Regions from separate parts of the Homo sapiens genome. Here region 2 is linked to region 1. Evidence: fine-mapped expression QTL. Tissue or cell type: whole blood. Region 1 holds a variant in brackets; the other region holds the start of a gene. All regions are shown on one strand. Distances are from middle to middle.

The links. PIP is the estimated chance that this variant, and not a neighbour inherited with it, causes the effect.
Region 2: it holds the start of BNIP3L, and the variant in region 1 is fine-mapped to the expression of BNIP3L in whole blood (TOPMed, PIP above 0.99). The same link has a PIP of 0.9 or more in blood mononuclear cells.

The regions. Positions count from the first base shown.
Region 1 is chr8:26,437,772-26,445,876 of GRCh38, forward strand. No RefSeq gene overlaps it. Among named protein-coding and RNA genes, the nearest start is that of BNIP3L, 59 kb to the left of the region's middle. RefSeq lists an enhancer at 3,195-3,324. The variant C/T (reference allele first, on the strand shown) is at 3,275.
Region 2 is chr8:26,378,398-26,386,502 of GRCh38, forward strand. It overlaps BNIP3L (BCL2 interacting protein 3 like), which reads left to right and starts at 4,657. Exons shown (of 6, transcript NM_004331.3): 1 at 4,657-4,833. The coding sequence starts at 4,734. It also overlaps the pseudogene SDAD1P1. RefSeq lists enhancers at 3,134-4,333, 4,307-4,606 and silencers at 4,817-5,406, 7,156-7,450.

The sequences.
Region 1 (8,105 bases):
GAGAGGCTGAGGCATGCCCTCTGCTGGTCAGCATGGCCACTGTTTGTAACCTTCCAGGTGCAGTCATCTCAGAAAGTGAGAGGCAGTGAGCACGGTGGTCCGGAGCCAGGAGCTTGGAGCCAGTCTGCTCGGGAGGAATCCTGGTTCTGACACTTAGTCACACAGACTTAGGCAAGTCGCCTAATCTCCTGCACCTGATTTCTTCTTCTTCTGTAAATAATATCAGCAGTTGCACTTCTGGCTACCCCCAAAGAAGTGAAAGCAGGGGCTGGAAGGGATGCTTGCCCACCTGTGTTCACAGCAGCACTATTCAGAATAGGCAAAACGTGGAAGCAACTCAAGTGCCCGTCAAAGGATGAACGGATAAACAATGGCGGCTGAATGTACAAGGGAATATTATCTAGCTTTAAAAAGAAATGAAATTTGGACACATGCTACACACAACACGGGTGAAGCTTGAGGACATTATGCTAAGTGAAATAAACCAGACACAAAAAGAAAGTACTGTGTGATTCCACTTATATGAGGTACATAGAGGAGTCAAGTTCATAGAGACAGAAAGTAGATGGAGTTGCCAGAGGCTGGGGAAGGGGAGGAGGGAATGATTGCTTAATGGGCATAGCATTATGGTTTTGCAAGATGAAACCATTCCGGAGGTGGATGGTGGTGATGATTGCACAACAATTTGTGTGCATTTAATTGGCACTGGACTGTACACTTACAAATGGTTAAGATGGCAAATGTAATGTAGATTTTACCACAATAAAAAGGGAGGGGGATGATAATAGTATCTGTTTATTGTGAGGATTAACTGAGCTGATACGTGTAGAGTATGGGGCAGTGTCCAGAAGCAGCAGGTGCTCAGTGAATGTCAGTTATGATTGTTCTCTAAACACATTCACCTTAGTAAGATGCACACTCATTTTATTTCTATGTTTATTTTTTTTGAGACAGGGTCTTACTCTGTTGCTCAGGCTGAAATACAGTCGTGTGATCACCGCTCACCATAGCCTTGACCTCCTGGGCCCAAGTGATCTCCCACCTCAGCCTCCCGAGCAGCTGGGACTATAGGCATGTGCCACTATGCCCCACCAATTTTGTTGTATTTTTTGTAGAGGCGGGATTTTGCCATGTTCCCAAGCTGGTCTTGGACTCCTGGTCTTAAGTGATCCTCCTGCCTCGGCCTCCCAGAGTGGTGGGATTATAGGGGTGAGCCACCATGCTTGGCTCATTTTATAAACAATTGTCCCTAAGAGTCCACCATCTGGGCTTGTCCCCACATGATCCCTCATGTGACCCTCCAGTAGCCACCATAGTTGCTTCTGAGGTGTCTCTCATTCTCCCCTGAAAATGGGCAGAATCAGTTAACTTTCACTTAAGAGTTTTTAACCTTAGTTATAAATTAATCCGTTTTGTCGACAAAACTTGAGCCAAGACTCAGCTGACAATAGTCAGAAGTGCCTCAAGTACTTAGGTATTATATGGTCTGAGGACGGTTGGGTAATCCAGGTCTCCCATCAGGGAGCAAACTCCAGCCAGCCCTGAGAGGCAGGAGGTGCTTGGGCTGAGCTTGGGGCTGGGTGCCAGTGCCAGGCACCCTGGGTCTGGGCAGCACCCTCTTCCTGGCTTTCTGATCTGGTGACGACCCCAGTGCTGTTATCTTTTTTTTTTTTTTTTTTTTGAGATAGCGTCTCACTCTATAGCCCAGGCTGGAGTGCAATGGCAAGATCTCAGCTCATTGCAACCTCCACCTCCCAGCTCAACCGATCCTCCCTACCTCAGTCTCCTGAGTAGCTGGGACTACAGTTGTGTGTGATTGTGCCCAGCTAATTTTCGTATTTTTTTGTAGAGACAGAGTTTTGCCATATTGCCCAGGCTGGTTTCGAACTCCTGGACTCAAGTGATCCACCCGCCTCTGCCTCCCAAAGTGCTGGGATTACATACAGGTGTGAGCCACTGCACCCAGCCAGGCAGCTTTTTATTAGACTTTCACTAGGTCCTTGTAGGTGGAACCTTAGTGGTCACAGTGGGCCAGGAGGGTTTGGCTAGTTTTGGCCTTTGTAGCCATCTTTGAATTACACTATTAGTAGATCAGTCTGGTCTCTAAAAGGAAAAAGACCACAGTCATTATTGGAGTTTGACTATTCCGTTTAAAATGTAGCTTTTAAGTGAGGTACATCATAAAGGATCTACTGGCTGGGCACGGTGGCTCACGCCTGTAAGCCCAGCACTTTGGGAGGCCGAGACGGGCAGATCACTTGAGGCCAGGAGTTTGAGACCAGCCTGGGCAACATGGTGAAACCCCATCTCTACTAAAAATACAAAAATTAGCTGGGCATGGTGGTACGTGCCTGTAATCCCAGCTACTCAGGAGGCTGAGGCAGGACAATCACTTGAACCCGGGAGGCGGAGGTTTCAGTGAGCCAAGATCACTCCATTGCATTCCAGCCTGAGTGACAGAGCAAGACTCTGTTTAAAAAAGACAACGAAAACCGAAAAACAAAGAACAGGTGGAGTCTACTGACTTGCATGAGTCAGGTAATTCATTGACCGGGGCTGGTCAAAAAGATGGGTTGATCCTTACTGTGGAAGCTCTCAGCTGCCCTGCAATACTTTGGAAATAAACCAGGCAAAACACTGCTCAGTGTGCTGCACTCCAGACACAAACAGGAAGCTGCTCTTTCTCTGCTTCCCTCCCCCACAATCAGACTCTTGTAACTCTCTTTTCTTCTTTTTCTAAAATGAATCTGGGAGTTTCCTTTAGCCCCTGTTTTGTGGTCGCCTCCCATACACGTTTTATCTGTCCGTGGCATTTTCTTTTATTTATTGAAAGCACCGTGTCTTAGATCAAGTCTTGAGAAACAGAACCTGAGACAAACATGAATGTGGTTAATTGAACGAGCGCTGTGCAGGAAAAGCTGTACTGGAGAGAGGTAAGCGGACAGATACGGGGAAGAGCTGGGCCCAGCAAAGATGAGGTCTCAAGTAAAGCTTATGTTTGGCTTAATCCACCGGGGACGGTTCTGGAACATAAGCCACACCGCAGAGCTGTGATGTCACACCTTGAGGCGAGGGCCTTGCCTCCTGGTATCAGTCAGTCCTGGCTGTGGGGAGCAAGGTGGCTCCACTCAGTGCAAGGCCATCCTGGGCAAGGGGCAGCCCCCCTCACCGCAGTGGCCTGGCAGTGGGGCCCTGGGTCCGGCACAGCTCCTCCTTCGCACAGTGCTGTCTGCTCGCCCGGTGTCTTTCATGCCGTTTCCCACCAACTTCCCTC[C/T]TCTGCCTCCTGCTCTGCATTGCACAGTGCAGCGAGGTTGCCAATTCCATAGTTGTAGCGGCTGTGGGGGAAGGGGCAGGCGGGACAGGGGAGGCAGCCATCTAACTTTTGTCCTGACTCACGCAGGCCTGGCCTGGTGTTCAGAACACAAATGTGAAAAATCAGACCGGGAAGATCACGGGAGGCAGGAAGCATCTGGTTTGCAGGTAGGGAAGTGACAGACCCCGCGGATGCCATGCACAAGGGTACACAGTGGAGTGGGGATGAAATCAGGGCGGAAGTGCAGGGCTCCTGAGCCCGGGGCTGGGGCTGTTTCCCCAACTGTCCGCTGCCTCTGCTGCCTCCTGAGATCGTCTCCTTCTGCTGTCTGCCCGCTGGAACTTATTTTTAGTTTTAATTTTTTCGAGACAGGGTTTTAATCTGTCACCTGGGCTGGAGTGTAGTGTCGTGATCAGGGCTGACTGCAGCTTCAACCTCTCGGGCTCAAGTGATCCTCCCACCTTAGTTTCCCAAACAACCAGGACTACAGATGCATGCCACCAAGCCTGCCTAATTTATTTTTTTATTTTTCAATTTTTAGTAGAAATTTAAAAATCCCCCAGTGTGGCTGATTGGCTGACAGCCACACTGAAGCTTTATTCCTGCCTCTCCTCACTCAGCAATCCTCATTCCTCAAATACCTCTTCTCCCTGTTGTCCAAATGTCCCCTGTACTTCAAGACCCATAGGTCACATCCTCCAAGAAATCTTCCCAGTCCACACTTATCCTTCTTTTAAATCAGGGGTGCACACCCTGGTTACATGTTACAATCACCTAGGAAGCTTTAAAAAATAAGATTAGGGGTTAGGGAGAGGGGACCAGACCAGCTGAATCAGACTCTCTGAAAATAGGACCTGGGCATTTGTAGTTTTTAAAGCTCCCATGTCATTCTAACATAGCCAGGATTGAGAAGTACCGTTCTAAGCAAATATTACAAATATGTCTTGCTTCCACACCCATGGCTATGTTTTGTTTGTTTGTTTGTTTTTGAGAAGGAGTCTCACTCTGTCACCCAGGCTGGAGTGCAGTGGCGTGATCTCAGCTGACTGCAATCTCCACCCAAGTTCAAGAGATTCTTCTGCCTCAGCCTCCCACGTAGCTGGGACTACAGGTATGTGTCACCACTCCTGGCTAACTTTTTTATTTTTAGTGGAGAATGGGTTTCACCATGTTGGCCAGGCTGGCCTTGAAATCCTGACCTCAAGTGATCCACCCACCTCGACCTCCCAAAGTGCTGGGATTATAGGAATGAGCCACCACGCCTGGCCACCCTTGGCTATGTTATTAAAGACATGCAAGGGAAACATTAACTTCCATATTAAAATATTCTCTTTCTTTTTTTATCCTGTACAGAGCATACCATAGCAGCTTGTGCCTGAGACCTCGACAAATATCTGGGGGATAGATTGGCTTGCAGAGCACATTCTGCCTATAGAAATGAGTTAGCAAGTTTAGTCAGCCATTGTAGATTTCAAAGGGTGAGAAGCCTAGCCAGAGGTTATAATATAGCATGATATCCTCCTGGAAATGGAATTCTTCACTTGCGATGCATTTTAGGAGCCGCTGCTCTGTGTGAGCCACTCTGCTAGGTCCCAGCATGCATGATATTATTCTACACAAAGAATAATATCAGAGCTCACAGCCTATGCAGGAAGTAAGCAATTAGTTACAGCGTGATGTGTACTGCAACCCAGGTAAGTACACAGTGTCATGGATGCTTCCAGGAGGAAGTCATAGTCTGACCAGGAAGTTTGGGAATACTTCTCATAGGAAGCAACAAGCTACCTGGAAAGATCTAGAAAGATGAACAGTACCAGTGTATTGATTAGAAATGCGTTCAGCAGCAAGTCATAGAACACATGACTAGTAAGGTTTAAACAAATAGAAGGTTATTTTCTCATATAATAAGCCCAGAGGTAGGCACTAAAGGTGGTACATTGGCTCAGTGGTGTTGGGACTAAGGTTTCTAAAATTCTCTTGTCCTCTAAGACATGGCTGCAGGTTGGCTGCAGCAGCTCCAGGCATCGTGTCCACACTGAAAGGAGAAAGGGGGAGGCCAGCTATGATTTCCCCTTTTATCAGGAAAGCAGAAACCTTCCTGTGGATTTCTGCTTATATCCCACTAGCCAGAACTGGGTCATGTGGCTATCCTTAGCAGCAAGGGAGCCAGGAAAGAGAGGATTTCACTTCTCCAGCTTCTTCTGTATATGGGAGGGCAGGTAGGTGAAGGGGGCTAGACTGAATCCTGTGTGAGCCAACTAGCAGGCAGAACATTTTGCATAGAACTGCATTTGCAAAAACATGGAGCTGTGAAAGTGTGTGGAACATTTACAGGCTATTTATTTATTTATTTATTTAGAGACAGATTCTTGCTTTGTCGCCCAGGCTAGAGTGCAGTGACACGATCTTGGCTCACTGCAACCTCTGCTTCCTGGGTTCAAGCAATTCTCCTGCCTCAGCATCCCCAGTAGCTGGGATTACAGGTGCCTGCCACCATGCCTGGCTAATTTTTGTATTTTTAGTAGAGACGGGGTTTCACCATGTTGGCCAGGCTGATCTTGAACTCCTGACCTCAAGTGATCCACCCGCCTCAGCCTCCCAAAGTGCTGGGATTACAGGCGTGAGCCACCGCCCCCAGCCTACAATCAAAAAATTTAATATCATCAAATTACAGGGCATGTGGCAGAGAAGTGTGGGCAGACAAGACACAGAGAAGTGGAGATGAGACTCTTCAGACCCTTGAATGACATGTTGAAGAGCTTGGAATTTTCTTATAGAACGTAGGTAATCAATAGAGAGGTTTCATCCGAGGAATGATAAAAATCCATTTGGGAAACAGAGGCGGTGTGGAGGATGGGTCAAGAGAGAATCAGAAGGCAGATGATTTACAGCAATCCAGGCCAGATATCAGGAGGGCCTACTCTAAGATTGCTTTTAGCATAGCTACTGGGGAAGAGTCGGGCAGGAGAGCCCAGAGGCCCCGCATGTGATGGAAACAGCTGCCCAAACTGCATCTTCAGGTAAATATGGCAGACCATAGTTCCCCCTTCATAAAGGCCTCTTGGGCGTGTTTCCTGGAAGGAAGAGGTGGGAGATGTCGCCATGCTCAGCACATACGTGAGGTGTTGCATTAGTCTCCTGGGGCTGCCGTAACAAAGTACCACAAAGCAGATGGAAACAACATGCATTTTTCCCCCCACAGTTCTGGAAGGTGGAAGGCCAGGATCAGGTGTCAGGAGGGTTGGTTTTTTCTGGGGGTTCTGAGAGAATCTGAGGGGAATTCCATGGCTTTCTCCCAGCTTCTGGTAGTTGCTGGCAATCCCTGGTGTTCCTGGGCCTGTAGACACGTCACCCCCATCTCCGCCTCTGTTTTCATGTGGCATCCTCCCCGGTGCGTGTCTGTGTGCCCCAACCCCCTTGTCTTATGAGGCCCACTCTAATCCAACAGGACCTCGTCTTTACATAATCAGATCTGCTAAGATCCTGTTTCCAAATAAGGCCATGTTCACAGATACCTAGGGTTAGGACTTGGACATATCTTTTGGGGGGACCCGATTCAACTCACAACAGGTGTTTGAGGGCAGCTCTAGTTGAGAGTGTCAGAGAACCTCTGGCTTAAAGGAGGAACAGGGAGTCTATCTGCTTGCAATGTCTGAAGTAGAGTGGAGTGGCTTTACTGTCCTTGGTAGAGAGCATGTCCTGCTTCATTCTCAGGAAGGATCTCACTGTGAGGTGGCTACGATTACTCTCTGCCCACCCTGGTTGCATCTGGCTTACAGAAGACAATCCCAGAAGAAACAGTCTCCCCCAAAGTCCGCAGCAACCCTTCCACTAGGAGTCTACTCCTGCTTACACAAGGCCCATGCTCACGCCTCACCCCACTGCTGTGTCCAGGGCTTCGTGGTATCCTGATGGGCTAGCGTGGGTCACACTCCCACCCTTTGAGCCATGGGCCCACCTAGTCCAAATCATAACAACTGAACAGGATGATCACAGGTTGTGGAGATGAATCTGCCAAAGTGATGCTAGGCAGTGCGCTTTCTTTTTTATTTTTAAAATATTTTTTGCATGTATGTATGTATGTGAGACAGTCTCGCTCTGTCGTCCAGGCTGGAGTGCAGTGGCAAGATCTCGGCTCACTGCAACCTCTGCCTCCTGGGTTCAAGCAGTTCTCCTGCCTCAGTCCCCCGAGCTGTGATTACAGGCATGTGCCACCACACCCGGGTAATTTTTGTATTTTTGTTAGAGATGAGAATTCACCATGTTGGCCATGCTGGTCTCCTGACTTCAAGTGATCCGCCTGCCTCAGCCTCCCAAAGTGCTGGGATTACAGGCGTGAGCCACCATGTGCAGCCAGTAGTGCTCTTTCTTTACCTCTGCCCAAATGAGGACAAGGAGATGAAGCGTGGCTGAAAGCATCAGCCTCTTCCCAGCTGTCCTGATTGCATGGGCCGCTTGTCCACTGGACAGGTACTTTTCCTGCCGGGCCTGCTCGTGTGGTTTGGACAGATGCCCAACTGTCAGGCTCACTCTGTTCTGTTCAGGGAGCTGGCATTTGCTCCAGTTTCCTCACCTGCCCACAGGGCAGGTGTGTGTCTGTGCGCCCCAACCCCCTTGTCTTATGAGGCCCACTCTAATCCAAAAGGACCTCATCTTTACATAATCAGATCTGCTACGATACTATTTCCAAATAAGGCCATGTTCACAGATATATGAATGGTAAGAGCCAGTGGGCCAGGTTGCCCATGTGAGGGAGCCGGTCTCCGCACCTTGAATTTCTCTACTGTTCTGG
Region 2 (8,105 bases), 59 kb before region 1:
CATGAGACCTTGTCTCAAAAAAATAAAAATAAAATAGCACATGATTAATAAAAAACTTTTTTTTGAAAGTTTAAAACCTTTTGAAAGGAGCACCTAAAAGGAAAATAGAACAAAGTGGGATCTCGTAGTCCTGACTGGGAAAACAATTCTATAAATATGTCAATAATCCCCTCAATTTCTTTTTTATCATTTGGCATTAGAAACCTTTTATTGAGACAAACGGTGGGCTGAAAATAATACAGGGTGAAGGAAGGTTGAGGAAACCAGTATGAAGGCATCTCAAATGATGAACTAAATACATTCCAAAGGTACTATTTACACTTAAGGCAATTTTAAAAGTGAGGTCTTAACCAAAAAGCCTTTACATGGCATTAAAAAAAAAAAGCGGGGGTCATTTAAATCTTTTGGATTGACTAAAAGAGCTAAATTATGTACCCAAAATCTGTACAGCAGGGGCCTGTTTTCAGCAGGTAAGCCTATTATATGCAAGAAAGAACCTCTTACTCTTGTTACAATTGTCCTGTTTTGCTTTGTTTTACAGGAATATATAACCCCCATCCCCACAGAGTTAGTCCATAAGGCCTCAGTGTCTGCATAGAAATGTGGACCTACCTCTACTAGAGAACTATTTACACTGCACTGTAAATACACGTCTGTGTCCACCCCCACAACTAAGCTGTCAATGCCTTGAGTGAAGGGGTAGTTACAACTCAGTCATTTTGTATCTACAGTGACAATTAATAGGCACTCAATACTTTTTTTTGCATGAATGATAAATGATATTACACTACCACCACTATTTACATTAACATTTCCCATCATTAGCTGTCCCCAAAATAAAAACACCAAATTGCTGCCACATTTTCAGCAGTTTTCATAATATAGTGCTTCTGGACTTTTTAATGTAAACAAACATGCTTGATTTACCAATTTTCAGAGTAATGACACAAACTTAGCATTCTTCTTGGAATGGAAAACTTTCTGGGAAGTTACTTCATTCTTTTTCTCTTTTCAAAAGGCATCTCGCAGCGCCAACTGTTTTTCTCAGAAGGAACGCTTATTTTCTGACCAGACATTCTGGCTATACCACATCATCATAAAGTTCTTCTGTTTTTTCTTCTCTTTACTTTTTGAACTGGAAAATGGATTCACTTTGGTTTTCTTCCTCACAAATTCTTTTCGGTCTGTCTTTCCAGCCATTGCAGTTGCTAGTCTTGTCTCTTTGTCAGATTTTGGCTTTTTATGAAGGCGTTCAATGTCCGGAAGAGAAAGTAATTCACCCCTCGGCTCTTCATCACTGTCGATTTCAATATATTTCCTCTTCTGGGATTTCCCGGGGACAGCGTCAAGTTCTTTTCTCATTTGCGCCATGCGGATTTTCTGGAAGTCTTCCTAACTTAAAACTCGACTGGTGCTGACGGCTGCAGTTTTGGCTTTCTGCTCCTCCATGGGCATGGTGTTCAGCTTCTTGGAAATTTCTTGCTGTTCTTCATTGGAAGAGTGTTGCACATCAACCCATTCGCCATCGGCATCCTCCTCCTCACTGAGACTGGTACTTTCCCATCCATCTTCATCATTTTCAGCACTCTCCTCTTTCTCAACTTCCAGAACTTCTGCTCCTGGAATGTAACCTTTAGCATCTAATTCTCCATATTCTTGTACTCTTGCTTCTATGGAGGCTTCTGTAGGCTTACCCCAGAATTTCTTCTGCAGCATCTGAGGATTCAGTGTTCGGAAGAGCCGAATCAAAGTTCTAGCAGACATCATTACATTATTATCCTTGTGTGTTTTATACTGAGCCAGGTCTTGGAGAAGCTTTTCAGTCATGGCCAGAGGACACTGAGCTGTTGTCTCTTTTACAGCATTGATTCCTATTGTCATGGCTTCTCCAGAGTTCTTGTCGTTAACAAAATTGTTGGCCACAGTCATAAGCAATGATTGAATAATCGCTGGGTGTACTAGGTGATGAGATGCTTGTGCAGCAAACAGAAGGTTCTTTGTTACTTCTCTTTGGTGGGGCTGCAGAAACCTTCGCAAAAAGTGATAGAAATTGAAGAGGAAGAGCTTATGAATTCCCACCAATCTGAGATGAGGTTCATGAGCATCATCTTCACTTCCAACCTCTCCTTACAGCACTCAAGCTGCTTTAGTAGTTTTTCTGCAAAATCTTGGGGATCATGAATCAAGTGAACGGCTAAAAAGTTAAACACCTCTGGTTTTTTCTTCTTCTTTTGTTTCTTGAGCACTTTCATTGCCTTTTCCAACTTTTTCTTGTTTTGGGAACTTTGTTCCCTGTAGCATACTGTGCTAGCAGGTCTCTTGCTGTTGGTCCGTCATCCTCAGATTCGGAGTCACTGGCCTGTTTTTCATCTTCATCTTTTCCAAGAAAGAATGTCAAAGCAGCAACTAATATCTTGGTGACCTAAGAGAAACATGCAGTTGTGATAACATTGACAGTTTTGGTATCATTCCAGATGTTCCTTCTGTAGAGTTCAATCATAACATCTAAAGACATCTTGGCTGCAGTTGCATTGCTATCTCTCAACATGGTATACATGAAATTTTACAATACTACATCCACTTTATTCTTGTGTTTTGCATTTATATTCTTGATATCAGTCACGATATATGTGTATGAAGTCTTTTGCAGAAGCTTATCATGGCAACAGAGAAGTTCAAAGAAGAGTTCTAGCAGGCTTGATGGATTGATGAGATTCTTATTTCTCAGCAAGATCAAAGCTTTGCAAAATGTCATTCGAAGATCTGGATCCAATACAGTATGATTACAGGACAGAAGATCTTTCACCACTTGAGGAAAATTACTTAGATACCCTGGGTAGCAGTAACTAATCTATAACAAAGCAAAGGCTCTTCTGAAGTTTCTCTCTTTCTCTCCTATTATTCAGATGCACATATTTAGGACGTTCTGTGCCATAAACACCACCAGCTCTGCTAGTTCTTTACCGGGTTTATATGGTTGCAATTTGAAAATCTCCACATTGGATGTGTAGTGATTATACTGCTGTAGAAACTCCTAGATGGAGGGTGGTGGGTCTCGCTTCATCAGATTCTGTAACTGCAGTCAGGTTGCTGGGCAGCTTGTTGTTGTTTCTGCTGGACATTCTGGCTGAAGACTGGCTTCGCGGCGAGCAGTTTTAATAAAACTCAGATGGCCAGCAGCCGCCAATCCCTACCAGCTGCGGCTTGAACTCCTGCTTCCGGGTATGACCGGAAACAGCACTCAATCTATTAATAGAGTTCATTTCTGACCAAAATCTTAAAAGAATTTGCAAAGGGATTTGACAAATCAATCCTTAAAAAAAACCTTTTAGCATGGACTTTTTCAAATATATTAAAAAATTAGAGGAATACTTTAATGTATTACATAGCTTCAATAATTACCAACACAAGGTCAATCTTGGACAAGTCCATTTTTAAGTTCATCTGAAGAGTAACTAGCCATTAACATCTGAAAAAGACAAAGGAAGAGAAACTTTAATAGTTATCTAACAGAGGTATTGCAGATAGCCCTGAAACAGACTCACATTTTTGTGGTCATTCAGAGAGTGACAAAGGTGCAATTTCAAATCAGTGTAGAAAGGATGGCTTAAAATTAATATTATTAGGTCAATGGGCTACAAAATTGGGAAGAATTGAAGTTAAATAATTTACAGCATATGGAAAATAAATTTCAGATGGATTAGAGCTCTAAATGTAAAGTTAAGCCTATAAGAAAATTAGAAAAAGTTATAAGGGAATTATAGATTAGTAATCTTGGTGTGACTGTCTCCCCAAGCCATGTAAGAATGATAAATCTGATTACATGAAAACCTTAAGCTTCTACAGAGTGAAAAAAACAAATTAAAAGACAAGTTAGAGACTGCGAGAAACATATGTCACTCATAAATCAGACCAAGGAGACTGGACGAAGACATGGAGATGTGAAGTAGGAGGTGTGCTCAGGAACATAGTTTAATGTCATCCACGTACAGGATAAACGGCTTCCCACGTCATGTCCCAGAAATCGATTAGTCGATGGGATTTGGGTGAGTACTTTCTTCTCTCTGTTTTCCTGAATTTTTCTTTTTTCTTTCTTCCCCTTTCTTCTTTCTCTTTTTTTCAGAATGATGGTGTGTTTGTAATCGACATTTTAAAAATTCTGTAACAATTAAATTTGGGGGCGGCCTTCCCTTGTTTCCCGTATGGAGTGTTGATGTTTCAGCAGCTTTATTTGGAGTTTACACGTGGAGGCACCTGGGTTTGGGGATTCCTTTGTGTCCCCAAGACACCTATTGCAGAAGTGAGTCCTAAGAGGTAGAAAACAGATGCGTGCGCAGGGCTGGGTGAAGCACTGTGGAGCCTGTGTGAGAGGAGGCACGGGCGCGAACACAGGAGCGCACTTCCTCATTCCGTTTCTCCTCATCCTCTCTCCCACTGCCACTGGCATCACTCATCCCATCCGGTCATCCCAAGTCACACGCAAGAGTTCGTTCCCGGCGCGCGCGTCAGCCTGACTCGAGCGTCTCCACGTCCGGGGCCCGCAGGGGAGCGCCCCTGCCCCGTCCGGTCGCTTGTTGTGTTGTCATCACGTGGCCTGGGCGGGCCCTGACGTCAGGGGCAGGGGAGGGACGGCGCAGGCGCAGAAAAGGGGGCGGCGGACTCGGCTTGTTGTGTTGCTGCCTGAGTGCCGGAGACGGTCCTGCTGCTGCCGCAGTCCTGCCAGCTGTCCGACAATGTCGTCCCACCTAGTCGAGCCGCCGCCGCCCCTGCACAACAACAACAACAACTGCGAGGAAAATGAGCAGTCTCTGCCCCCGCCGGCCGGCCTCAACAGTGAGTGCGGGGCCGAGGCTCTGTGAAGGGGATGGGGGAGGAGGAGCAGCCCCGGCCGCCGCCACCGGCGCGGCGCGGGAGGCGGGAGGAGAAGGCAGCTCATTGGCTCAGGCATGGGATGTCCAGGTGACTGACAGCTCCCGTCCCCTGTCAAGAGGAGGGGCGCCTGCCTTGCTCCGGGCCTCTCTGTTGCCTCCTGGGGTCTTGGGCCCGGGGCCGTTTGGGCTCGCGGTCCGGGAGCGGCGCGGGTAGCGCGGATCCCCCTGGTGCGGGGGGTGGTCCCCAGCAGCGGAGCCGGGCGGGGCGGGGCGGGGGCGGGCCTGGGGGGCGGGGAGGCCGGGTGGGCGGAGCGGGCCGCGGAGGGGACGTGGGCCGGGATGGGGACGTGCGGCGGGGACGCCGGGGGATGGACGCGCGGGAGCGGGGCGGGGCGGGCGGCTGCCGCGGGACGTGTCGGGGATCAGGTGTGCGGGGCTCGCGGGCGGGCAGCGTCTGGCGGGCGCGGGAGCCCCCCAGCGAGCATTCCTTTGTTGCCACACGTTTGTCAGGAAAATTCATTTGCTCGTCTAGGGTTGGCTTCAGTCACGTGTGGGGTGAGAGGCTGTGCCTTGCTTCTCCTTTTTCCTTTTTTATTTTTTTATTAGATTTCTCGAAGTTGCCCAAGTGATTTTTTTTTTTTTAAAGCGATGGGTTGTGCGCCCAGTAAAGCTGAGAGCAGCCTCCTGAACCACCCAAGATTGCACACGTCAGGGAGTCTGGGGCCATGCATTTAAAGAAACGGAATTAAAAACGCACTCGGGCAGTTGAAAGTTAACGGACGAGGCTGATAGACAACCCAGGCCAGGGTCTTTTCATAACATTCCGCTGCCCAGACATCTTGTCCTCAGATTGTTCCTAGTCGTGAGAACCGGGAGCCTTCTTGGAAGGGTTCTTGCCTAACCTTTCTTTAATTCAACTCTTGGGAAAGAGGTAATGGGAGCAGTGAGCATATGGCCAGATGAAGTCTTTTCAAAACCACTTGGATGCTTAAAGGTCATGCAGTATCTTTCGTAAGAGGGAGGTGCTTCCAGTGTGGCCTGAAGATTATTTTAGGGAAGAGAGTTTCAGCCCTCACCAGGTAGCGATGGAGTTTGGAGATTTTAAGATGGATGCTGCTGCTCCAGGTTTTGATGGGTTAATTCCCAAAACCTTTAAGTGTCATATATTCCAGAATGTAAGATGGTTATATTATTTCCCACAGTAAATTAGGATGAATGTATGAGTCTTTAAACGTTACTTGTATCACATATTCCTATGCAATTTTAAGTTATTTGCCCATGTTTAGCATACTGTCTTAGATTTTAGAATGGGAAGAAACTTCAGAGCTAGCTAACTGCCTCCTGTTGTTTGCCTGTAGAGAAACAGGTCTAGAGTAAATGGCCTTGTCCAAGTTCACAACCGGCTGGGAGCAAAGCAGAGGTTCTCATGTTCAGCCTGTCTACTGCTCTTTTGAGGACATTTTTTTTTTTTTTTTTTTTTTTTTGAGGTAGAGTCTCGCTCTGTCTACAACCTCCGCCTCCCAGGTTCAAGCGATTCTTCTGCCTCAGCCTCCCGAGTAGCTGGGACTACAGGTGCCTGCCACCCGCCCAGCTAATTTTTGTATTTTTAGTAGAGACGAAGTTTCGCCATGTAGCTGGGATTACAGGCGCCCGACACCAAGCTAGGCTAATTTTTGTATTTTCAGTAGAGAGGGGGTTGTTGGTCTCTCACCATGTTGGCCAGGCTGGTCTCAAACTCCTGACCTCACGTCATCCGCCCGCCTGGGCCTCCCAAAGTGCTGGGATTACAGGCTTGAGCCATCGCACCGGCTTCTTTTCAGTGGTGCAGAACCTCCTGCTGGTGTGTGTGTCTTATTTTGTCAGTGTGTTATTCTACCTAATTGACAAAGGTGGCCAACCTTTCTGTTTCTTTTTAGTATTGTTTCTTAATTGTACAGTTTTCTTATGAGTGAAGATACTTGGTAGGTGTACGTGATTTCACTGAAAGCAAAGGGATTTTCATCTTCCTTTGACCCTTTAACAACAACAACAAAAAGGGCTGAGCCAGGCAGGGCACGATGGCTCACACCTGTCATCCTAGCACTTTGGGAGGCCAAAGCGAGTGGATCACTTGAGGTCAGGAGTTCGAGACCAGCCTGGCCAACATGGTGAGAGAACAACCCCCTCTCTACTGAAAATACAAAAATTAGCCTGGCTTGGTGTTGGGCGCCTGTAATCCCAGCTATTCAGGCGGCTGAGGCAGGAGAATCGCTTGAATCCGGGAGGCAGAGGTTGCAGTGAGCCGAGATCACGCCACTGCACTCCAGCCTGGGTGACAGAGCAAGACTCTGTCTCAAAAAAAAAAAGGGGCGAGGGCGGGGGCTGAGCCATATGTCATTGTTTATCTTGGTGTCTGACAGACCTATGAGGAGTTTGATGTCTTTGGCCAGTCGGTTCCTGCTTGGCTGACATCAGCTCTTACAGAGGTGGAAGTACACTCAGCCTGCATGGGACATCAAAATGTTGCTTTGGGACATCTGCTAGATAGAAAGTATTTTGTGTGGGATAGGGTGAGCTTTCTGAAAAGCTTTTAGATATTGCCATATTTAATTACTCCCTTCTTGCCTCTCACTCTGTTCGTTTTTTTAGCTCATTACACAACACTGTACTGAACAAAACAAGAAGCCTCATTGAATTCCTTGAAGTGATTTTTGGGCAATGGGCAAAACAACTTATTCAGGCATCTAGTACTATCCAAATTGCTGATAAGTCGAAGGACTTTGTTGGGTAAAGTTGCACAACTGAAAAACAGGAGAAGAAATGTACAGATTATCTTGCGTTTGGGATTTTATCTTTGGTTCAGGGGTCAAAGCAGGGTTTCAATAGCAAATTACTGAAGTATTTGAATAGTGAAGTATTTTTGTGATTTTTTTTTAACTTTACCGCTGTGGAGAGACTGTTCACTTTCATTAAAAATTACAGGGCAAATACCCAAACTCCTTCCAAGTCAAAAGGATGTTGTCCAGTTTGTTTTATTGTTAAGAAAACTATCAACTTCCTTAAGAATGTTTGAATAAGATTCAATAGGGCCGAATAAGGAAAATCAAAGTAGTAGTGTAAATCGTAGTATAATTCTTGTTGTTGAGAAGTATAGCCTTTTTTTTCTTTTCAAATTTTCTTGTTCTTTTTTGTTTTTTGTTTTGTTGAGACAGGGTCTTGCTTTGTCACCCAAACTGGAGTGCAGTGGTACAGTCA